Linked DNA regions of Homo sapiens: region 2 is linked to region 1. Evidence: fine-mapped expression QTL. A gene starts in region 1. The other region holds a variant in brackets. All regions are shown on one strand. Distances are from middle to middle. Region 1 holds the start of BEGAIN (brain enriched guanylate kinase associated). Region 2 overlaps BEGAIN (brain enriched guanylate kinase associated).

Evidence for each region. PIP is the estimated chance that this variant, and not a neighbour inherited with it, causes the effect.
Region 2: its variant is fine-mapped to the expression of BEGAIN in transverse colon (GTEx, PIP 0.98). The same link has a PIP of 0.9 or more in aorta and unexposed skin.

The regions. Positions count from the first base shown.
Region 1 is chr14:100,582,374-100,594,152 of GRCh38, forward strand. BEGAIN (brain enriched guanylate kinase associated) reads right to left here and starts at 5,044. Exons shown (of 7, transcript NM_001385089.1): 1 at 4,876-5,044. The coding sequence starts at 4,917.
Region 2 is chr14:100,538,885-100,550,663 of GRCh38, forward strand. BEGAIN (brain enriched guanylate kinase associated) reads right to left here. Exons shown (of 7, transcript NM_001385089.1): 3 at 7,617-7,778; 4 at 6,116-6,182; 5 at 4,974-5,081; 6 at 1,612-1,695; 7 at 1-431. It overlaps LOC124903382 (a long non-coding RNA gene), which reads left to right. Exons shown (of 2, transcript XR_007064334.1): 1 at 1-327; 2 at 1,246-4,059. Among named protein-coding and RNA genes, the nearest start is that of BEGAIN, 43 kb to the right of the region's middle. RefSeq lists an enhancer at 8,045-8,174. The variant A/G (reference allele first, on the strand shown) is at 7,392.

The DNA.
Region 1 (11,779 bases):
ACCTCGTGATCGGCCCACCTCGGCCTCCCAAAGTGCTGGGATTACAGGCGTGAGCCACCGCGCCCAGTCAGAAGTGTCTATTATTATTCCCCTTTTGCAGTTGAGGACACTGAGGCTCTGGGAATCCGCACACTTGTGCTCCTAATCACCTGCCCCGCTGTCCCTGGATTTTCCACGCTGGCCTCAGAATCTCCAAGGGCAGCCATGGTCTTGATGTCTCCCAGTCCCCAGCACCCAACACAGGTGCCCCAGTTCTCTTCCTCAGATAGGACATGTACACAGCTGTCCAGGTCTTCCAGGGAGATCCCTGGGCAAGGACGCCCCTGTAGGAACCCCGGCTGGCCGCTGACCTTTCGAAGAGGTCTCACTGCTTCTTCCTTATTTCCTGAGTGGGTCTTCCAGGGCAAAGCGGGCCTGGAAAGGCCAAATAGCTGTTAGTTTGGGTTGGCTTTTCTCCCACCAAAGTCAAGGTGGGGTTAAGTCTCCCTGTCTGATCAGCCCCCTCCTGACCCTGCGCCTGCGTAGTATATGTCTCTGAAGCAGAGGGACATGGGGGTCTGTGAGCAAAACACTGGCATCTGGGAAATCAAGGCATGAGTGACCTGAAGCTTCACCCATTCAACCAACCGTCCTTCACCATCCACCCCTGTGACCGCTCACCCATTTACAGGTGCCATCCACGCACCAACACATCCTTCTGTCTCTGTGTCCCTCACCCGCTGATGGGCACTCATCTGTTCACTGGTCCTCTCACTCCCGTCTCCATCTGTCCGCCTGCCCATCCCTCCATGTCTGTCCATTCCTCTGTTACTTGTGTCTCGTATCCATGCATCCATTGCTTTGTATCCATTTGTGCACTGAGCTGCCTTCTCAGGCCTCTATCCACACATCCGTCAATATACACTCATCACCTATCCATGCACTCACTCTTCCAGTGTCCATTCATTCCTCTGTCCATCATTCATGGACATGTATTCAAGTATTCATCCACCCATCCCAACATCCAGGCACTACCTGTATCCATTTATGTATCCATTCCTTCATCCATCCATCCAAAGATCCTTCCATCCATTCATCTACCAATCTTGCCTTGTGTATCAGAAGTCTCCCTCCCTCCACCCATGTATCATCCATTGATATTTTGTTCTATCAATCCAGTCCTGTATCCATATCAACTTTTCCATCTGTCCACCCACCCATCCCTATCTTGCTACTTACATCCATCAACCTCTCCTCCCGTCCATCTATCCCTCTTTCTCTCTTTCTTTCTTTCTTTTCTTTTTTTCTTTCTTTCTCTCTCTCTCTTTCGTTTTTCTTCCTTTTTTTTTTTTTTTTTGATGGAGTCTCACTCTGTTGCCCAGGGGCTGGAGTGTAGTGGCACGATCTCGGCTCACTGCAACCTCACCTCTGCCTCCTGGGTTCAAGCAATTCTCCTGTCTCAGCCTCCCAAATGGCTGGAACTACAGGTGCACACCACCACACCCACCTAATTTTTTTTGTATTTTTATAGAGACGGGGTTTCACCATATTGGTCAGGCTGGTCTTGAACTCCTGACCTCAGGTGGTCCACTCACCTTGGCCTCCCAAAGTGCTGGGATTACAGGCGTGAGCCGCTGCGCCCAGCCTATCCCTCTAGGTTTCTACCCATCCATCCGCTGCTCTATCCTGCTAGTGCTTCCCTTCCATACAGTATCATCCACCCATGCATCCCCTTCAGCATGCCTGCGTTGCTTCTCCACCTCATGCACCTCTTAATCCCAGCATGCACCCACTGTGGGATGACCAGGCTTCCATGTCTGGCTTCCCCAGGCAAAGCCCAGGCCTGACCCATCTCCATCCCTGACTTGGGCTCAGGGCTTGCTGATTGAACCAATGACTGCAATTCCCCTGCTTGGCTCAGAGCTGGGCCCTGGCTGATCCCCACCCCAGGCAGACCACAGAGGCTGCTGTACTGTCCTCCAGACTCAAGGCCTGCTGAGGCAAGGGCCACTTTTGAGTTCCCTTCCTGGCTAGAGGGGAGAGAAGAGCCCCAGCAGCTCCTGACTCCTGCCGTACTGGCCAAGGTCCATGTCTCCCAGCAAACTGTGGACTCGTGGAGGGCAAGGTCTGTGTCAGACTCACCTAAGTGACCCCAATGAGCAGTGCAGAGTGGGTGCTTAGGTACAGCATGTTAGGTGAGTGTAGAATTCACACACTTAGTCATTCATCATTCATTCATTCATTCATTCCTATAATGATTAAAGCAATAGAGACACCTCTGGCCAGCTTCTCCCACCACAGGCTACAATCTGATGCCTGCTCTCAGGCCACAGAAGTCACTCCCCTGACTGTAATGGGTGTTAAGCTTCTGATACGGAGCCCTAGAGAGGAGACAGTGAGTCAGCGGCAGAGGAGGAACCAGAACCCAGGGCTGCAGACCTCCGTCCAGGCCTCTCCACTAAGGCTAGCGACCAGCTCTGCGGCAGGAAGGGGAGTCAGAAGAGAACCATGCGGGGTGATTCTAGACCAACACGGCGAGTCCTAGGGTCACCCACCCATCTGTCCCAGGGATCCTTACCTCCCTTAGGGGGAGGAGCCACACCTCCCCACCGCCATGGCTTCCACACTCCAGCAGGACACAGCCTCTCTAAGTCTTGAGACTTGAACACTCTACACTCTCCCCATCACCTTCAGGCCTTGGGCCAGGCTCCTGTAACACACCTTGACCCCTTCATCTGTTCAGCAACTACTCAGCCCTTGGACCCCACCTCCTGGGACCCTGGGTAATGATTTGTGGACTGTGTCCAATAGCCATGGACTCATGGGCTTCAGTCAATCCCTCCCATCCATCCATCCATCCATCCATCCATCCATCCATCCCTCCCTCCCTCCCTCCCTCCCATCCATCCATCCATCCATCCCATCCATCCATCCCTCCCATCCCTCCCATCCATCCCTCCTTCCCTCCCTCCCATCCATCCCTCCCTCCCTCCCTCCCATCCATCCATCCCTCCCTCCCTCCCTCCCATCCATCCATCCCTCCCATCCATCCCTCCCTCCCTCCCATCCATCCATCCATCCATCCATCCATCCATCCATCCATCCATTCATCCATCCATCCACTCTTCAGCATCAGGAGTGCCTGCAGGAGTAGGGAAGCTCCTTCAAAGTGTTGCCGTGGAGATGATGCGTGGAAATGCTGATCCAGGGCCCAGTACATAGCAGGCGTTCCATAAATGGCAGCTATGTGGGCCAGACCCTGCGCCCAAGTCTTGGGAGAGTGGATGGAAGATCTTCCAGATTGCTTAGGGCTCATTTCCTCTCTCCAGGCCTGGGCTCTGACAGGTGTCCCCCTACTCCACCCCAGCGCATGGAAAACTCATCCTCCAGGCTGAGGTTCTAGGCAGCCCTCCCCTCCCCACTCAGCTCCCAGGTGCGAACAGCTCCAGGTTTTGACGACAAACGGAACGCGGAGCCTTGGAATCTATAAATATGAGACAAAAGCTGGGGAGGGCCCTTGGCGGCAGCGCAGCCGCCCATCGCCCAGAGCCCGTGTGCTGAGCCCGGGCAGAGCCGCATCTGCCACAGTGCTTGCTTTTCCAAGCTGCCCTGATTATAGTGAGAGTCGGGAAAATTAAGGGTTTGCAGGATGCTGCTGGGGCCCTCTCTGCCGTCTCCCCGCCCTGCGTGTCACAGATGCCAGGCAGAGCCACCCCCAACGGCCAGTTGCCCCTGCTGGCAAGACCAAGGCCAGCCTGGCAGGGCTGCACACCGCAGTTTGTTAGGGGCTTCTGCCCACAGTCCTCGTGGGAGCCTGGCCCTGGGAGTAGTGGGGGTCTCTGCTGCTCTTGGCAGGCAGAGGAACTAGGGTCCAGAGAAGGAAAAGAACCTGTCCATGGCCTCCAGAGAGCCAGAGCACTGGGGCCTCCGACGGAGCCTGGCTGTGGAGACCCCGCCCCACCCATACCCCCAGGGCCTGGACCCCCAGTCTGCACTGGCGGCCGACCTTGGCCATGCGGACTTTGCACGTGCAGTGCTCCCTATCCATCCGGCCCCGCTCCCGGGTGCCCACTCTGCTCCCATTCTGCCGGCTCAGGAGACTCCAGCGCGTCGCCCACGCTGTTCCTGCCCTGAGGAAACCACATTGGGGATGGGGTGGGGCACAGACGAGGAAGGAAACACCTCTAAACCAAGCAGGAAGCGGAAACGCTGGGGCAGAAATTCCCATCCAACGTGCTGGGGCTCAGGGAGGGTGAGCGCGCCGGCTGAGCCGCTCTGGGCGAGGCCCTGGCCTCCCTGAGCCTCAGTTTCCTCGCCTGTAAAGGGGCAGGAGGATAGTACCTGCCGCGAGGTACTGAATGGGATGGTGGTGTCCGAGGTTCGTGCGCGCCCACGCGCTGCAAACGCTCAATGAGGCGGCCCCGGGTCCAGCCTCCTTCCGGCTCCCGGGCCTTTCTCCGGCCTCCCAAGCAGGGGCTGGCCCTGCCCCCAGACGCAGGCGGGTCCAGGCCTGCCCGCACCCTCGCCACCCGCCCGGGACAGCGGCGGGTCCCCAGTCCTCCGGCCGCGCCCTTGGTCACCCGTCCCTCCTTTCCTTCCGCCGCAGGGGCGCGCGTGTCAGGGCGCAAGGACCCCGCGATAGGACCCGGGCGCTCCCGGCGGCGCGCGGAGGCTGGGCATCCCCGCCCCACCCGAGAGTGCCCAGTTCCCAGGAGACCCGGCCCGGCTCCTCCCGGGCCAGTGAAGCCTCCACGGCGGGGGCGCAGCGCGGAGGGGAGCGGGGCGGGGGGCCGGCCACCTCCCGCGCTGAGCAGGGACCGCCCCAGGCGTGGGTGGCGCCCGCCCCGCCTCCGCGCCCGCGCCCGCGCCCTGCCCTCCCGGCTCGCAGGTACTCACCGCCCGGCGCAGCCGGCCCGGCCGGCGACCGCCAGTCCACATGGCCCCAGGGCAGCCGCGCCGCTCACCGCCGCCGCCGCTACCGCCGCCCCCTCCCCTCCGAGGCCGAGCGCGCCGGGAGCCGGCGCGGCCGGGGCTCCCCCACCCCGCCCGGCTTCCCGCAGGGAGCGCCCGCCCCCCGCCCCCAGCCCGGCTCCCCGCCAGCCCCGGCCCCGCGCAGCCGCGGCTGAGCCCGCGCGTCCTCCCGGCAGCGCCCGGCCGGGGCGCAAGTGGTGGGCGCAGGGCCGGGCAGGGGCGCGGGGGTGCGGCGTGCGCGGGGGCCAGGCGAGGAATGGCAGAGGGGCAGGGAATGAATGAACCCGCGCCAGCTTGAATGGCTGAGCGCGTGAATGAATGAGTGCGGTAGAGCATGCGGGGCTGGGGGGGCGGGGGGAATGAATAAATGAGAGAACTAATGCACGGGCGCGAAGGTGAGTGACAGAGTGAATGGGCCCTTGAAACCCAGAGGCTGTCAGTAATGACCTGCCCAACCTTTTCATCGGTCCATCCATTCAATCCCTCAACATTTATTAGACACCTAGTGTGTACCAACCAGCCCTGCTGTAGGCCCCAGGGGGTACAGTAGCGAGTGAAACCAAGCTCCTGCCCTCGCAGAGTCACATTTTACAGATGAGGAAACCCTGGCTCCCAAGGGTGCCTCCTGGCCAAGCTGCCCCTTACCCTGCCCTTGCTCTGCCCGAGCCCCCAGTCGGTGGCTTCCAGGGCTTGCCTTCTCCCCAAGGAGCTCTCAGGAAGGGAAGGTGGCTTCAGGAGGACCAGTGTTGCCCCCTGCCTATCCCTCCAGTCTGAAGCATCCCACCGACCTGCCCGGTAGAGCCCAGGCTGGCCAGTCCTACCCTGGTAAAGGTGCAGCGTGAACCCTCCTCTCTCCTCCCAGAGCGGGCAAGGGGCAGCCCTGAGGGTGCCAGCTACATGAGGGTCTTCCATCCCAGCCAGCCCAGCAGCAGCCAGCGTGGGAACCCGGGGAGGAGCACTGGCAGCCAGGGAGGGTCCTGCGTGGTGGAAACAGAGCTGGCAAAGCCCGTGTGCTTCGCTCATATCCTCCCTCGGGACCTATGGGCTCATGGTTCACACATGCTTATATCATTTCCAAGTACATGGCAGATTAGAAGATGCTGCGAATGAGTACCTTGTATATTTTTGTTTTTTAATTGTGGAAAACATGGAAAACATAAAATTTACCATTTTAACCACTTTTAAAGTGTACAGTTTGGGGACACTGAGTTCCCACTGTTGAGCTGCCATCACCACCATCCTTATATGCTGTATGTTGTATGCTTTGCAGTTTCTACGCTCTCTCATTTAATCTGGGGAGTAGGTTGCTACATTCAGGCAGTGTCAGTGCTGAGAAAAGGCACTGATAGCAAGGCAAGAGGGGAAACCCAGAAAAAAAGGAGACAAGCAAAAGAACCAGCAGCTGACTGGAGCCACTTCGTGTCAAGCAAAGTCCTGTCTCTGCTCCCTCTCAGGTCCCAGGGACATGATTGGGTAACCAATGGACAGAGGGAGGCGCCTCCAAGTGCACCCCACCACAGTCAAGACAAAATGAGAGGCGGCAGCTCAGGGCGGGGCTCTCCCAGTTTGGGCGAAGCGTGGACAGACTTCGCCCAAACCGTCGCTGGTGTGCACCACGGGACCAGCCTCTTTGCTCAAGGGGGCCTTAGTCTCCCCAGCAGGAGTAGGGACAGGCTCCCTGACCTCCACTCTGGCCTCTCAGGTTCAGACACCATTCAGGCAGCACACAGCAGTGGAGGCATCCTGTGAGAGGTAGTGAGGCCCAGCCTGCCAGCTCCAGTGTCCCTTCCCTCCCCAGTCCCTAAGGGGACAAACACCAATGGGGGATGTGGAACCTGGGGTACAGGCAGGGCTCTGCCCACATTGCCTCCTCCTGGGCTGCGGCCCTTCCCCAGAGGCTGGTCCTGCTCAGATGGTGCCAGAATGTTCACCGCCCGCCCTGGCACTGCTGCTGCCAACGCCACAGATGGCTGGGGAGGCGGGGGAGGGGCGGGTGGGGTGGGGGCGGCTCCTGCTTCAGCTCCAGCAGCTTGCAGGCTTCAGCTCAGGCCTGCCTGGGAAGGCCCCAGGAGAGCCCCTCCCCCATGCTGCACGCACCTCCCGTCCCCACCCTCCCTGCCCTCTCTTCTATCCTTCCCACTCCAGCCCCCTTAAGCTAGGAAGGCGGAGAGAAAGCAGGCATTGGTTGTGGGTCTGGGAGCATCCCTGCAATGCCCCTGTAGGGGAAGTGGTACTAGCCCCTTTTTGCAGATGGGGAAACTACAGTCAGTGCAGCAGAGCCTGGGGCATCAGGCAGGCTTCCTGGAGGAGGCAAGGTTTCAGCCGGGTTGGGAAGAAGGGATGAAAGTGGCAGGACTTCGAGGTGATGCCCTGGGGCCATGGAGGACCCTCTCCTCAGGCCCCTGCCCTCATTCAGACCTCTACGGACCACTCTGTTTGACATCACCATCCCCATGGCTCAATCTCGTTGCCCTATTTTGTTTTTTGCGTGTCTCTTACTGCGTTCCAGAGCTATCTGATCTGTCTGTTGATGTGGACATCAATCTCCCCGCTGGGATGCGTGGTCCTCTACTGTGGTCAGGGAGCAGGGCAGGAAGTGGCACCACACTGGGGCTCATGGTTAAATGTGCCAAAGAATGCATGGATGGATGGAGGTGGGGGAGATAGGAATAGCCTGGTGTGATGCCAGGCTTCTGGCCCTGGTGGCTGAGTATAAAAGAAAGGACAGCACGTCAGGGAAGTCATTGACAGTGAGGCACCCGCAGACAGCCACATACAGGGGCTCCAGCATCAGCTAGCCATGCTGACCAGTTCCCTGCCTCATCTTCCAATCCCCACCCACAAGAACAGATTGAGCAAGGGTTCTGACTATGAGCCCTAGAGAATGGGAAGGTGAGAGGTATCTTCCCACTCTCCCACAAACAACAGGTGCTCCAACTGAAACTCTGGAGTCCCCTGCAGAATCGGGCTACAGCTGCCCTCCACAGGTGGTGAGAAGGCCCTGAATTGGCCCAAGTGTGTATCTAACAATGACCCCAACTGCAATATTAACCCAAATTCCAACCTATATCAAATGCTAAACCTAACTCTAATGGGACCCAAAACCAAAGCAAACTTTAACCCTACCCCAATGCTAGCCTGAACAGTAACATGAACCCTAAACCCGACTCTAACCCCAACACTGTCCTGCCAGAAAGCAATAACCTCAACCCACACCACACGCTAAAGTTAACCCAGACGCCAACCCAAAACCAAATCCCAAAAGGAACATTAAACCAAACCCCAACCCAGCCCTAACCCTAACACTAAACACTGCCAAAAACACCCCAAGCACTAGCCCAAATCCTAACCATAATCCCAACCCCAAACCTAAGCCTAATCCCAACCTGACCCTAACCCTAATCCCAAACCAAATCCTAACCCTAATCCTAACCCCAGCCCTAACCCTAACCGTACCCCGCTGCCCTGTTCCTTCACCTGCTTGTCCTGGGAGCAACGATGAGGGGGGCCTGGGACCGTAGGAAGCGGGCACAGGCAGCTGGGAGCCTCGTAGGTGCTCTGTCCGAGGCAGGTCCCAGGCCCAGGGGTCTGGCCCACTGCTCCTCCTGGGGTGGTGCTGTGAGCCCCTTGGCCTCCACCCCACTGCCTGCCCTGCTCTGTCTCCATGGGAAGCAGCAGTGGCCTCCTCCCTGGGCCTCTGCCCCTGTCAGGCCTTTCCAGCAGGTGGAGGTGGTTTGGATGCTGTGGCTTGGGCTTCAAAACTGTAAATAGGGGAAACCATTTTCAAACAAATATTTGTCAAGCAAAATCCCATCTCATCTCAGTGTGACTGGGCTTATCTCTTTATGCCCTGGGCCTGGGTACGGAGGGCACCATCCTGGGCCTCCCATGCTTGAGCCTGGGCAAGGGGAGCGGACACAGAGCAGGGGATGGCACCGAGGTGGCCTCACTAAGACAGAAACTGCCACTGGGTGTGCGTGCTGCTGCGAACAGTCAGCAGGGGTTCACCAAGGCCACCTGGGGGTCTGGGCTCCTTCAGGGGCCCACCTGCTAGGTCCTGGGCCAGGCTCGGCCCTGCTGCTGCTGTGGTGCCCTCCCCAGCCAGGCTGAGCTCCGGCTACATCATCCCTGTCCATACCTTCTGTTTCCGGGTCCTTGCACAGGGAGTTCCCTCATCCTGAGATGCCCTTCTGTGGAGTGTCCATGTGGAAACCTCCTCATCTCAGCTCCCAAAGTTGCTTCTTCTTGCAAGCTTTCCCAGATTGCTCCCAGCTAGGCCCCTCCCACCTATCCCACTGCTGATGCCCGGCAAGGCTCATAGTCAAAACCATACATCAGGCTAAAAGAGGCATCTAGCCCCTCCTTGCACACCTCAGGTGATGAGAAATTCCCCCCAAGAAGTCTCTACCGTTTAACAATGGCCCAGAAAGTTCTGAGCTACAACTGTGGCCCCACAGGGGCAGGGCTAACCCCCTCTGCCGAGGCAGGACAGTGTTTCAGGGGGTTGGAAACCACCAGCGCCCTCCCGTCTTCTCCCAGCCATTTCTCCTAGTCCCTTCTCCAGGACACGCATCAGCTCCTCCAGAGGCCCAGACTGGGGCCCCAACCCAGGTACTGTTCAATCCCAACAGCCCTGGCCGGGAGGCAGAACATGGACCCCTTCCTCGGCAGGATCTTCGCCAAGCTTGCAAGCGACAGCTACAGCAAAGGACCCCCAGGGGACATTGGCACACAATGTTCCTCAGCATGGAGCAGCCTGCCTTGCCCTTTCATCTCCTGCATTGCAGCTAGGCTTTCTGGTCTCCATTCAGGCAACCTCTCCTCCAGGAAGCCCTCCCCGATCCCTAGTTGGTGTGTTTCTCTGTGTGCCCTTGAGCTTGGTTCTGACCTCAGTGACTGTCCCTGCCCAGGGATGTCCTTCTCTGCCCCACCATGGGCCCTCCAGGCGGGACTGGCCCTCGTTCCCGGTGCCTCCCCAAACCTGCAGAGGCTTGTCGCCCAAAGCTAAGACCACTGAAGGTGCAGGCAGAGATGAGCTGAATGAATGAATGAATGAGCGAGGGATGAAGTGATCGTGGGAACACCAGAGGGCTGAACCCCAATGTGAGGGGGAGTCAGCAGGCAGGGCTGAAGAAGGTTCCCCAAGAGCCTTGGCACATGGGCTGGCCATACCAGAGCGTGGAGCCGGAGGCTGGCACCGATCAGCTCCTCTGTGGTTAATGCAGTAGGACTGCAAGGAGAACACACCTGCCTCTGCACTCTGCCCCACAGGTGTATGTGGCATCCGGACAGCGGCAGTGTGGCCAGTGCCCCTGGGCAGGACTCCGGGCCTGGGGGAGCCTTGCCAAGCTGGTGGAAGGAGGAGTGTCCTGCAGGGGCCTGGACTCCAGGGCAGCGAGACGGAGCCCAGACCTCTGAGAGCCTTAGGTGGCAGGAACACGGCAAGAAGCAGTGCCTGAGGTCAGGGATGGCCACAAGCCAGGCTGCCTGGAGGCTGGGCACCAACTCCTGCTGTGCTCGCCTGACACTGCCCTGAGTGGTATGGATTGGAGGTGGAGACCAAGGCAATGTGGAGTTGGGATGCTGGCCTGAAAGATGGAAGCCGAGGGTGCCCAGAGCCCGGCAGGCCCCCACATCCCCCGTTCCCAGCCAAGAAACTCCCTCCTCCTTCTGGGGAGTCCCTGTAGTCTCCTGCCTGGCCCTGTCTCTGAAACCTGCCTTGTGTCTGTTCCAGTATCCTCTCACCCTGCCCCTCCTCTGCTCAAGAACCTGCCATGATTCTCACCTGCCTGCCTGCCGCATCCCATCCAGGCACTCAAGGCCTTCCATGGGCTCACTGGTGTCTCTGATGTGACTCATCCTCTTGGCAGATGCTGAGGCTCTCCTGCTCCCTCACTCCCCTTGCAGGCTGCCCTCCACCCCGACCACCCACAGGCACACACACTCAGCCTCCTTTCCCCTTGTCCCTGCTCAAAACAGGAGGCAACATTCCCATAAAAAAAGAGGCTCCATCGGGTCTGGTGCCTCACGCCTGTAATCCTAGCACTTTGGGTAGCCGAGGTGGGAGGATCACTTGAACCCAGGAGTTCGAGACCAGCCTGATCAACATAGGGAGGCGCCATCTCTACAAAAAGTAAAAATTAAAAAATTAGCCTGGCATGGTAGCGGGTGCCTGTGGGCCCAGCTACTGAGGAGGCTGAGGTGGGAGGATCACTTGAGCCTGGGAGGTCAAGACTTCAGAGAATTGTGATTACACACTGCGCTCCAGGCTGGGTGACAGAGAAAGACCCTGTCTCTTATGCACTCCAGGCTGGGTGACAGCGCACGACCCTGTCTCTTAAAAAAAGGAAGAAAAAAAGAGACTCATGTGATCCAGGGCCCCTGGAATGGTGGGGGGAGGAGCTCGTTCTGTGCAACCCCACCTCTGTCCAGACCACCATTTCTTGGCCCAGAAGACGCACCTGTCTTCGCTACTCCATCCTTTAATGGGCCCACATGCGCTCCTCCCAGCCTCACGGTGGCTCCTCGAGGGTATTCCCGCATCTGCTGCTCTTCTAGCTCCTACACAGGACAGTGCCAGTCAAGGCATGGGTGACCCGTACGTCCCCCAGATGTCCACATGGCCACTGGTCAGGCCTCCTGCCCGGGCCCCAGGAAACCTCGGGCCTGGTCCTGCCTGCCCACGACTGCCCTGGGCAAGACATTCTCCTCTCTGAGCTCAGTTTCCTTGTCTCTCCTTCTGTGGACTGGAAACGCACCCCCAGCCCCGGTCCACTTCTCACATGACTATTCAGAAGATCTTCCCTGTGAGCAGGGGATAAGGCGGCAA
Region 2 (11,779 bases), 43 kb before region 1:
CTGGGGAAGGCCTCATGCTGGAAGCCCGCCGGGAAGGCCGCCGCCTCGGCCTCCTCCTCCTCCTCGGCCGCGCTGTCAGTGGAGTTCTGGGCCCGCAGGAAGCCCACGTCGGTCACGGGCGCGTCCACGCTAGGCCGCCGGTCTCGCCGCCGCTCCTCCGGGCAGTAGAGGGCTGTGTCACTGCAGTAGATGTCTCCCTTGTAGGGGGGCCGCGGGCCTGGTTTCTCCACCCCGTCGCAGAAGGCCAGGTCGCGGGCGGAGGCATCGGACAGGCGGGAGGACAGGCTGGCGGGGTCCGGCTTCTCCAGCACCTTGGCAATGACGCAGGTGGGGACGCTGTCGGCGTAGGCCGGGTGGCAGAGCGGGGATGGCAGGCTGCAGCCGTGCTTCTCCATGTGCAGGCTCACGCGCTCCTGGAAATCCGAGGGCAGCTGGAACGGGTGCGAGGAGGGGGACGGCGGGTACAGGGTCACTGTTAGCATGGCAGCCCAGCCCTGGCCCTGAAGCTGAGGACTGATGTTAGCCATGACCGACAGGCAGACAGACGAACGGGGGCCTCCCGGCTTCTCAAATCACACCAGGGGGAGCCTGGATCCAGGACGCTGTACTGAACAAGCTCCCAGGGGTGTGGGTGCTGTGACTGCCTGGGGATCCTGGGTCACCTCTCCCCACCCCACTCTGATTGGGCCCAGGAGAGCCCAGAAGCTGCAGTCGCCTGGAGAAGCCGGAACCCAGGTCTGATTCAGGCCCCACTCAAGGCTCCACCCCCCGCCACCCCCACCCCACCCATTTTGTGCCCAGCGAGGGGTTGACTTGCTCTCCCAGGCCCGTGGGTTCTGTGGGTTCTACTGGGGGCATGACCCACTCCCCAGCCCCCCAGTCATGCTGCTGGAGCGCTCCTGAAGAAGACAGACTCAGATGCAACAAAGATTGAGGGCCAGGGCTGAGAGCGCCTGGTGCCATGTGGGGGTGTCCCGCTACTGTTTGATCTATTTTGTGAGTGTCTCAGGCATGGCCCAGGACCAGGGGAAAGGAACGCACAGGCCTGGCTGGGAGATTGCATGTGAGGGGAGGGTCGGGGGACGGGGTGCGCAGGGTGCGGCGACCATAGGCGGGCAGGGGTGGGCCTCTGGCCCATCTGCCCTTGGCATCAGACAGGCCTGGTTCTGGGTCCTGGCTCTGCTACCTGCCTGCCACGTGGCCTCAGCCACGCCCTCTTTCCTGAATGTTTTCTTTCTGAAATAGGCACTGCCGGTCATCGTGCCCAGCCACAGGCTCCTGCGAAGCTCCACAAAGGTCACTCTGCCGTGTCAGCGCTCAGTGGAAGCAAGGACCTGGAGCAGCCCCCCAAAGGAAACCGAGGGCAACCAGCAGCCGGGGTGGGCCAAAGGGACTCTGGTGAGGGCCAGGGGCTGCCCGGCTGCGTGAGGTGGGGTGCCTTTGGCGGCCCCTCCAATGTCATGACCCCACAGGAGCGAGGGGGACAGAGGAGGCTCAGGCTCAGCTGGCATCTTCCTCCTCAAAGATGGGAAATGGCTTTGGGGTAGCACTGGCACAAAAGGAGCCCGGTGGTCCCGGGGCGGGGTGGGCCTGGCTGCGGGGCCACGTTACCTCAGACACCTTGTGGACCCTGCCGTAGGTCTGGCTGCACTGCAGCAGCTGGGCCGCTAGATTGCAGTCCTTCCTATAGAGCTCCTAAAAGACAAGAGAAGGCGTTTGGCGCCATTCACCCCAGCCAAGGCCCCGCCGCCCTGACCAGCGCCAAGTGGCCAGCGGGGGCAGTGGTGTGCACAGGGCCTGCTGTGCGCTCAGCAGGACAAGGACCCACTGCTGGCTCCGGCCCTCTCTGGCCTCCACACTCTTGCCTGCAAAATGAGAGCCTCTTTCTGACCTGGGGCTGCCGGAGCATGGAGGGCCCTGCCGCTGCCCTAGCTGGTGCCCTTGAGCACTGCCAAGATGGGAACCTCCCACAAGGTGGGGGGCAGTGGTAGAAGAAGGAGCCCCAATGGCCCTGAGCTCCCCCAGGCTCGTAGAGCAGGCCTGGTCTCCCTGTCCCTGTCCCTCAGGCTCTCGGCGTCCTTCCAAAGATGACGGGGTGGGAGTGCCAGGCAGGAATGGGAGGCAGGATGAACCCCCAGCACCTTCCACCCCGCACTTCAGACTTGCTGCTCACAACCCTCTTCCCAGAGTGTGGTTTGGAAACAGTGTGGCTGCAGGGCTGGGCAGGGACTGGGCAGGTGTGTGACCTCAGGCCCAGGCGGGCGCTGGCTCAGCCTCCTGAGCTGAAAACAGATGCAAACAGTAGGACTCAAGGGGTGTGGCTTCGCCACTGAAAATCTCTGTTGCATGTGCCTGTGTTTGGGGCTTGCATTCCCGCCCCTCCGGGGTCCCCACTGCGAGGGCTCTGACAGCTAGCCCTGGGGTGGCCCGGAGGCCCAGTGACCCACCTGAGCTGCCCCATGGCTGCTCCTGGCAAGGGCTGGCCACAGTCCCAACCCAGCCAGCACCAGGCATCCTGCTGTCCAGGCAAGGCTGTCTCTGACACAGGCACCTTTCTGTCCCCCCACCACGGCCCTGGAGCCTCCCTCACTGAAGGCTGGTGCCCCCAACTTGGCCTACACGGTGGAGGGCGTCGGAGTCGCCAAACCCCTCTCAGTGCCTCCCTGGGCCTCCTAGGAACAGAACAGCACGGCTGCCTGAGAGCTGAGAACTGACCCCTTGTATGACCCCAGTCGACCGGCTGCCCCTGGCACCAGAGGGCTGCAGGCACTGCCCAGCCAGCCCAGGTCTGCCACTGAGCCCCACCAGCCACAGCCAGGAGTGGCTGCCACTGGGAAGCCGGTGCCATGCCCATAGCCCCTGGGGCACCTGGCTGAGTACCCAAGCCCCTGGGCTGTCCATGTCTGAGGTGGCCAGCTCTGGGACAGCTGGGAGCCTTTCCTGAGCAGCCGCAGCTGCTGGCTCGGGGAGGAAATGCTCACGGGACACTCTGGCAGAGCGAACAGGTGGAGGCAAGCACTCTGGCCACCCAGGGCCCGGGGCTGCTGGAGTCGGAGTCCCGAGGTTGAGTTCTGGCTCCGTCTGCGAGACACCACCTGGGTCACCTGGGAAACCACTCAAGCTGGCCATGCCTTAGTTTCCTCATGTGCACCAACCCTGCAGAGAGGGCCCCAGGACTAGTGTCCACTTAGGTAAGGGGCCTGGCCTTGTCACGTTAAGAAGCACCTCCTGTCCCGAGCCCATGTCCTCCTGTCCTCCTGTTAGAGCCACACTCCTTAGAAGGGTGGCCTGTGTCTGGAACCACCGCTCCACTCCACCACCGACCTCCAGTTCCCCAAATCCCAATGCCTCTCCTTGGCCCTCTGACCTGGTCTCTCAGCAGCTGGCAAGCCAGCCGGCCAGGGCATTGACTGCAGCCCCCTTCTCAAGTGGTTGTTGGGCCACCATACTCGCCTGGTGTCCCCCAGCCTACTGGCCACTCCCTCCCAGGCATCCTTGCTGGTCCCTACTCCGTCCTGGGGCCTCCCTGCTTCTCATCTGCATGCTGCCTGGGCAGTCTCCGCCGGCATGCCGGCCTTCACGCTCAACTCCAGACCCGGGCCTCCTGCTGCCCTGGTGACATCTCCGCTCCAAGGGGTCCTGTGCATCTCCCACCCAGCTCCTGTCCCTCCCCAGCTGTCCCCAGCCAGGAAATGGCAGGCAACTCCTTTTGTTTGGGCTCTGAATCCTGTAGCTGGGTTGGACTCAGCTCTTCTTCTAACAACCCACATCCTAAATCTTGGTTAGTCCTGTTGATTCTATTTTCAAAACACAACCAGAATCCCAGCCCTCTGCCCAGTTCCACCGTCATCTGAGCCACCATCATCTTTTGGACTATGGTCCTGGCCTCCTCCTGATCTTCCTGCTCCTGTCCTCGTCCCTACAGCCTGTTTCCAGCATGGCAGCCACGTGAGCCCTGGGAAGCTGCACGTGCAATCACGTTGCTCCTCTGTTTTCAGAACCCTCCATGGCTCCCCACTGCACTCAGAATAAAGCCCAGGTTTCTGGGAGGAGCCTCTACAACATTGCCTCCTATGGTCTTTCTGACCTCAGACCCTGGCTCCCCCTCCCGCTGGGCGCTCCTTGGCCCCTTTGGGATCCTCCGAGTTAACCAGGTACAGCTGCACACCACGGTTGCTTCTGCCTGGAAGCAATGCTTCTCCCACGGATGTCTGCATGGCTGGCTCCTTCACTCCCTCAGGTCCTGGCACAGCAGCCCCTTCCAGAAGCACCCTCTTGAAATCTGCAGGCCCTGCAGCTGGCGACTCCCTGGTACCGTTCTTCGCTTTCTGTTTCTCTATAGCATTTCACACTTCTAACATACCCCAGAGTTTGCCCCACTCAGATGTGAACTCCACGTGGCCAGAGGTGTTTTTTTTTTTGTTTTTTTTTTTGCCTGTGTTGTTCACACCATCATCTTGGAGCCTAGTAGGGTCTGGCAAGGTAGAAGCTAATTCGTGAATGCAGAGGCAGCTGTCCAGGGTCTGTGGAGGGCAACTGGGCCCATCTCACAGGGTCCCTGAAATTAGGCCCCATGGGCAGCCACACGGCTGTGATGCAACACTGGGACTGGCCAAGGGCAGGAGTCCTGAGTGGCCATGACCCCACCTTGGGATCAGGAAGCCTTGCCTTGAATGGGATAATATGGCCCCGCATCCCCTAGCTCAAGTCCTTACAGCAGAGGGTCTGTTTAAGGACACCCTTGGCGTCCTCAATGAGACAGCACCATCTTTCCCCAACTGCAGCAGGTCCTTCTCAAAGCCCTGACCAGCCTGTCCATCCACCTGTACCCTGCACCAGCCCCTTGAGGCTGGGGCCAAAGCAGCTGAGCTCAGGACCCTTCAGAGTCAGAATGTGACTCCCAGTGCATCCTGGGAAGCCCTCGCCTAGGCCCACCGGCAGTCTTCCATGGGCCAAGTGTGTGCGGCACTCACGTTGTCCTCTGACAGCTTGTCGATGGTCACCTTGGCTTCTAGCAGATGGCTGTTGAGGGCAACAATCTCGTGGCTCAGCGCACGCTTCTCCTCCTCATAGTGCTGGCCCTGGGGGTGGGACAGTGGGAGGAGGAGGCCCGTGGTTGGCTCCTGGTGAGCCAACCCAGTCGCTCGATTGCACCCCCTGGTTTGTCCCTTGTAGCCATGAGTGACAAGACACTTAGAGGGCCAAGGGTGTGGGGTTTATGAGCACAGACAGACCCTGGTTCAATTCCTGGGTCCAACACTGCCAAGCCACACAGCCTTGGGGACGTCACTGCCTCTGAGCCTCAGTTTCTCATGTGCAACACAGAGGTGACAGCGTCCTGCCTCAGGAGCTGGGAGTGGGGACGGAGGACAGATGACTTGTGCCTGGCATAGAGCCCAGCCCACCTCACTGGACAGATTGGGAAACTGAGGCTCAGGAAAGGGCCGGTGTCCAGGCACCCAGGCAGAGCCAGGCCCAGCCCCCAGGCCTGCCACCCCCCGTCTCTGATAGCACCACAAAGGTGGGCAGGTTGTTGCTTTCAAAACCAAAATGAGCTGGTCACCAAAGTAGAAAGAAAGGAAACCTCTTCATCCTAGTGAGGGAGTGGCACCAGAAACCCACACCCTGCCCCTCTTCGACATGTCCCAGCAGTGTGTTCACAGAGAAAATGGCGACCCCACTGAGGTCACCTGCAGGTGGTGTGAGGGTCCCCACAGAGGGGTCCCCATGAGAGGCGGAGCTGGGGCTCAAACCTGCCTCTGGCTCACCCAGGGCCTGAATTCGGGCCTCCCTATCCTCCTGGGCCCAGGTCCTTGGACTGGCAGGCTGAGCTGGGGGGCCCGTTCCCAGTGTATGTCCTCCGTCCACAGCCCCTCTTACACACCCCCAGGCTGGAGTGCTCGCACCCGCCACTCAGGCAGCACAGGGCAGCCCTGGACCCAAGTACTTCCTTAGCCTGAGAGCACACACCCTGCTCCACATGTTCCATGGAGAAAGGGGTGGGACCAGCAAGACCTGTGTCCCAGCTCCTGAGTGGCCCAGGGGTGTCAGCTGGGTGGCTCCCCCCGGGAAGGAGGTGTGGGGTGGGGGAGTGGGCGCTGCGTGGCGGCCTCACCATGCGGTACAGCTTGTCCTCCAGCTCCTGGTTGATCCTCTGCAGTGCCATGTAGTTGCTCTGAATCCTGGTGCAGGAGGCAAGGGGGTCACTGCCATGCAAGGCCTGTCCCTCCCACGACCCTTATGGCCGCACAGCCTGCTGAGCAGGGTGGGGCTGAATTTGGACCTCCTGAGCTCACCCCACCAGCTTCACCCTGGTGGAATGTGTGCCCCTCTGCACACAGCAGAGAACATCCCATTAAAGCAAACTTTTGTAGAAGCCTTTCCTAGGCCAGGGCCCAGGACTGTATTTCCCCCTCCACCCCGGGACCCCCTGAAGATGGGAAGGGAAGGCTTGTTATTCACAAGAGACTCTGTCCCATCCACACGCGGAGCCAGTTTACTCACATTTGACCCACAATTCTTACAAACCTGTTATGGGGTTGACAGTTCAAATGCAAATGAGCAGGGAAGAAACTTAACACTAACTATGTGATGGGCCCCAGGGTGAGGCTGGAGACATCACAGTGAACAAGACTCGGTTCTGCCGGGTAGGAGGAGTGGAGCTGAGTGTCAGGTGGGAATCAGGTGCTTGGAGATTCCATTGCTGGTGGGAGGGGGCTTGGGGATGGTGTCCAGCCTCAGACAACCTATGTGTCGTGTTATGGCCCCTGTCTTGCCAATAGGGAAACTGAGGTGAAACTTTAATTACTTAAAGCAGTAACTGGCAGGGCCCAGATTTTAACTGAGGTCTGACTGCACTGCCCAAGCTTGGTTTCCACATGAATGGAGGGTGACATTCAAAACACTCAGGAGCTGGGGCTGTTCGGAGAGGGACAAACCCTCTCCCTATGGCAAGTCCTCCCTAGGGGCAACACCAGCCGATTCTCTACAAATACCTAAAACAAATCAAGCCAACAGCAAAGGTTGCATGCTTCTTGCATTTTCTGTTTAAGAAGATGAGAAAGTGCATATTACATTTCAGAAAAACATCCATTTTAAATGTGCACAAGAAAACTGCTTTTAGAAAAGTTTGGTGTTTGAGGGAGTCCAGCACAACTGGATCGACACTTCATTAGCCCGTACGCGCTCAAGGGAAGGGTCCCTAAACTGGTTCATCTCCGGGCTAGACACAGCTTTTCCCATCAGGACCCAGGGAACCATGGCTGGGCCCCGGGTGGACCAGTCTGGGTCTGGAGATCTGCTGGGTTCAAATCCTGGCTCAGCTGCTCCATAGTGTGACTTTGGAGGAAGAGCTTCCCCTACCAGAACCTCTGGACTCCCCATCTGAGTGG[A/G]GTCAACAGCCAGGGTGAGAGGGGAGCACCGCGTGCGGCTTTCCGGGCCTCGGGCCCTGCCCCACCCCGGCCCTCGCCCCGCCCCGGCCCTCGCCCCGCCCCGGCCCTCGCCCCGCCCCGGCCCTCGCCCCGCCCCGGCCCTCGCCCCGCCCCGGCCCTCGCCCCGCCCCGGCCCTCGCCCCGCCCCGGCCCTCGCCCCGCCCCGGCCCTCGCCCCGCCCCTCACCTGCGCAGCTTCTCCGTGACCTTCTCCAGTTCCTCCTGCGCGCGCCGCAGCTCGATCTCCAGGTAGTGGCGCGTGGAGTCGAACTCGGTCTCGAGCTTCTCGAGCTTGTGTGTGGTGTAGGACAGCCGCTTGCGCAGCTCGCCCTTCTGCTCCTGCAGCGCGCTGCAACGACATGGCGGCGGCGGGCCGGGCCGCGGCGCTGAGCGGGGGAAACTAAGGCCCGCAGGCCAGCCGGGGCGTGCCGCACTAACACGCGAGTACCGGCGCGCGCGCGCGCGCGCACACACACACACACACACACACACACACACACTCACACACACCCAGCCTCCCGGGCGTCACTGAAGACCATGGCGCCCCAGAGTCAGGGACTCTGACCCTGAGCCAGTCTGGCCTGGGCGGTTCCTCAGACTCCACCAGTGTCCCTCACACAGGTAAATCCCAGGTGGTGGCTGGAGGAGTCTTTGACCCCAGAACCTGGCCAGTGTGTTGGGGGCGGTTTAAAGGACCCAGGTACAAAGAGCACCCATCAGCACCCAGGCTATCACAGAGCTGGCCCTGGGTGGCACAGGTGACTGGGGCCCTCACTCCTGCTCCTCCACAGTGCTAGGTTGGGATGGCTGAGGCCCAGAGTCAGCAGTGCCATGCCCAAGACCAGACCTGCTTTCCCCAAAATGGCTGTGTGGCCCTGGGACCCTGGGTCACTTCTCTGGGCCAGAGAGATGTTTGGTGGCAATGTCCCATGCCCGGGCAGTGTCTGCCACCATGGCCAATGAGGCTGCATGCAGCACGGGAAACCTGGCAAGGTCCTGGCCTGCTCAAGTTCCCCTTCCTCCAGGAAGCCTTCCAGAAACCCAGACAATTCTTGAGGCTCTATTTTCTTCCCCCAGAATGGGGTCTCCTGGAGGGTAGGACCCCAGGATGCAGAGCCCCACATGCTCAGGAAACAGAGACCCACTATGACCCACTCTTCCGAGCCACCTGCCAACAATTCACCTGAACTAAAGCTGTGCAAAGGCAGGAGGGTAGTGTGGGGGCCTCCAACAGGGATGGCTCGGAGCTCCCCAAGGCAGGGGCTGCACTTCCGGTTGTCTGGGTCAGAGTGGGGTCAGCAGCCAGCAGTTCTTTCCTTGCAATGGGTGCACAGCCCAGGGGCTATCTGGGACCAACATCTTTTGGATTGTGTTGCTGTGAGATGGGGACGGGACAGGCAGAAGTCCCGGGTGTCATGAAGGAAACTTGAGGTGTGGGAGAGGGCCTGGAACCCTGACTCTGCCCAGATGTGCTGTGGGACCTTGGGCAAAAGCCCGCGTTCTTGTGATATTCCCGACCCAAACCCAAGCGAGGGGAGTAGAGGGCAGGCAGGAGGCTCCCAGTCCCCCTGGGGCCACCACTGTCCCCCAGCCCCGAGCAGAGGCATCTTCTGTCTGGGCCCCGTGAGTAAACCGCATGTGGCACTGCGGGCACACACCCAGCAAGCCTCCAGGAAGCACTCTTGGATTCCTGCCCAGGGCTATATTTTTAAAAACAAATAAAAATAAAGCGTCGCTTACGTTTTTGAGAACCTCAGAGAAGGGCAGGGCGGGTCTTCCCAAGAGTCAGTCACCACAAGAGGAAGTAGAGTAACAAGCAAAGAGGGAAGCCCTGAGGCAAAGTGCCACAGCTGCCCACGTGGGTCTGCCTCCGGGAGCGCTCTCTGGGACAGTGCTCAGGCCTCCTTCCACCTCCTCCAGGCAGCCTTCCGTGGCTGCCCCACTTCTAGCACTCTATAGCTACAGGTCCCAGGCTGCTTCCCACACAGACCTGTCCTCCCCAGGGAGGTGGTGAACTTCCTGGGGACTCCTATGCCATCCTGGGCTCCTAGGGCAGGCACAATGGGCTGCACAGCAGCCCCTGAAGTCGACTGTTCCCTGCAGGGGCTCCTGGTGTACCCACAGCCCTCGGGAAGAGGTGAGGGCGTCATCCATCCACCCACGTGGCCACCTCAGCCCCGAGTCCTCACCCCTTCTCCAGCCACACCCCAGGCCTCACTGAGCAGCCTTAGGTCCTTGCTATTCTGAGACCTGCACCCCTAGCTCACTGTGCCCCCTCACCCAGCCCTGCCCCTTCTGGGCACCCTGAGGTCCCTACCCTCACCTCTCAGAGCAAGCAACCTGTCTGAGACCTCACAGCCAGGAGTAAGACAAACCCTGCCCCTGCCCCGGGAGCCTGCGGTCCAGAGGGGAGGCAGACAATGAGCTAGGCAGGGATTCTCCACGGGGCAGGTGTGGGAGGGGAGGACGAAGGGGCTATGGGGTGGGCTCGGGGCAGACATCTCACAAGTCAGGCAGCTTCACAGAGCCTCAGTTTACCCCTGGCCTTTGGATGGCCTTCCAGATACAGCAGTCAACTCCCTGTTCCACCAGCCCTTAAATACTGCTCCCCCTCCCCAAGTCCTTCACACCCAACCACCTGCTACACCCAACCAATCTTTGGGCTAGCAGTGCCCCCAGCCCCTGACTCTCACACCCCTCTCTGCCTCAGTGTCCGCTTGCTGCAGGCATCGGGCCATGGACACGCACCCCGTCCCCAGGCATAGCTGATGCCCCGCACTTGGCCGCCCCAGGGTTCCTGCCACGTCTTTCCCCACCTCTGCTGGTCCGGCGATCACACCACAGGCCCCTCCCGACCTCGCCCGGGCTGTTCCCTGGGGCCCCGGTTTGCACCTGCACCCCTGCCCTGCATGCTCAGACCAAATCCCCTCCAAGCCAGCTGCACAGGGACCCCTCCCAGGTTTCCATCTGACTCCAGCGGGGTGTCTGTCAGGCTCCATACCCTCACCACGTCCAGCCACCCACCTATGGCCCTCAGGCATCTCCACACCCAACCCGTCCAATGCAGCCACATCCACCACACCTTCACTGCCCTCCACGTTCCCCACCCGGGGGGTGGGCATGGTGACCCCTCTTTACCCCTCACAGCCCTGTCACTAAGTCCTGGGGGTTCAGCTTCTCACACCTCTGAACGTGTCCCCTCTGCCCAGTCCAGGCTGTGTACCTAGGGTCTGCGGTCACCCGGGTAGTACCTCCTTCCCTGTCCAGTGTTCCCCACACCGGGCAATAACCCGAGCCCTGCCACGGCAGCCTGTCTCCACATCTGCAGAACTGGATGGTGCACCCAGACACGGGGGCAGGGCTGTTGCTGGTCCACATTCTACATAGTAGCACCCTCCACACAGTGGACAATGTCAAGAGGTGGCACTGTGTGGGGTGGGGCCACCAGGCCACTGGGAATCTGGGGGAAACTGCTGGAGGCCTGTGGCTCAGAGGCCTCTGTCCCCTGCCCTGGGTGAAAAGGTGTCCTGGCAAGGGCCGAGATGGGTCAGGGAGTCCCCAGCGTCTGGAAACAGCTCCTTAGCAGACATACAGGGAGGGCTGTGGTGCTCCGAGCGCCAGGGCCACGCCCTCCAGGCTGGGGCCACCCTTCCAGGCCTGGGGGCCTGGGGGGCCCTGCTGGGCTTGCTGCCTGGTGAGTTACACCAGAATCTGGGGCTAACCGGCAGTGTGTGTGCACGTGTGCGTGTGTGTGGTGTGCGTGTGCGTGCGCACGTGATTCTTGGCTCCCTCCTTGCCTGTGGGAATTCCCTGGACTGGGGTGAGTGCCCAGCTCCCCTGGCACATGGTGGGGCCTCGAGGGATCTCCCTTCTGCCTTCCACCGAGAGCCCCTTCTGGCCACTTGCAGGGGGTCCAAGCCCAAGGAAGGAGCCCTTGGCTGGGATGCTGGGCTGAGGGCTGTGAGGCTGTGCCGCCGGCCCACGCCTTCACCTTCACCTTCTGGGCCTCTGCATCTGTCTCGGGGAGTTGGACACAGACACGGGACAGATGTCTGGGGACAGACGCAGAGACACCAGGGAGCCGGGGGAGACAACAGGTATGTTACCTGTCCCAGATGGAGGGCGAGGACCTGGCCAGCCGGCCCTGCAGTACTCGGGGCTGCCCGAGGCACAAGGGCACCCAGGGGCTGCGCAGCCTGTGGGCAAAGAGGACAGAGCTGCTCAGAACAGGCCGGGGTGGGCAGGGCTGGGGGCCATGCGTGGCCCACCATCAGGGGCACAGCCACAGCCCCTTGGCTGAGACCGAGAGAGATGGGGAGTTGGTCCCCACCCCCTGCCAGGAAAACTTGT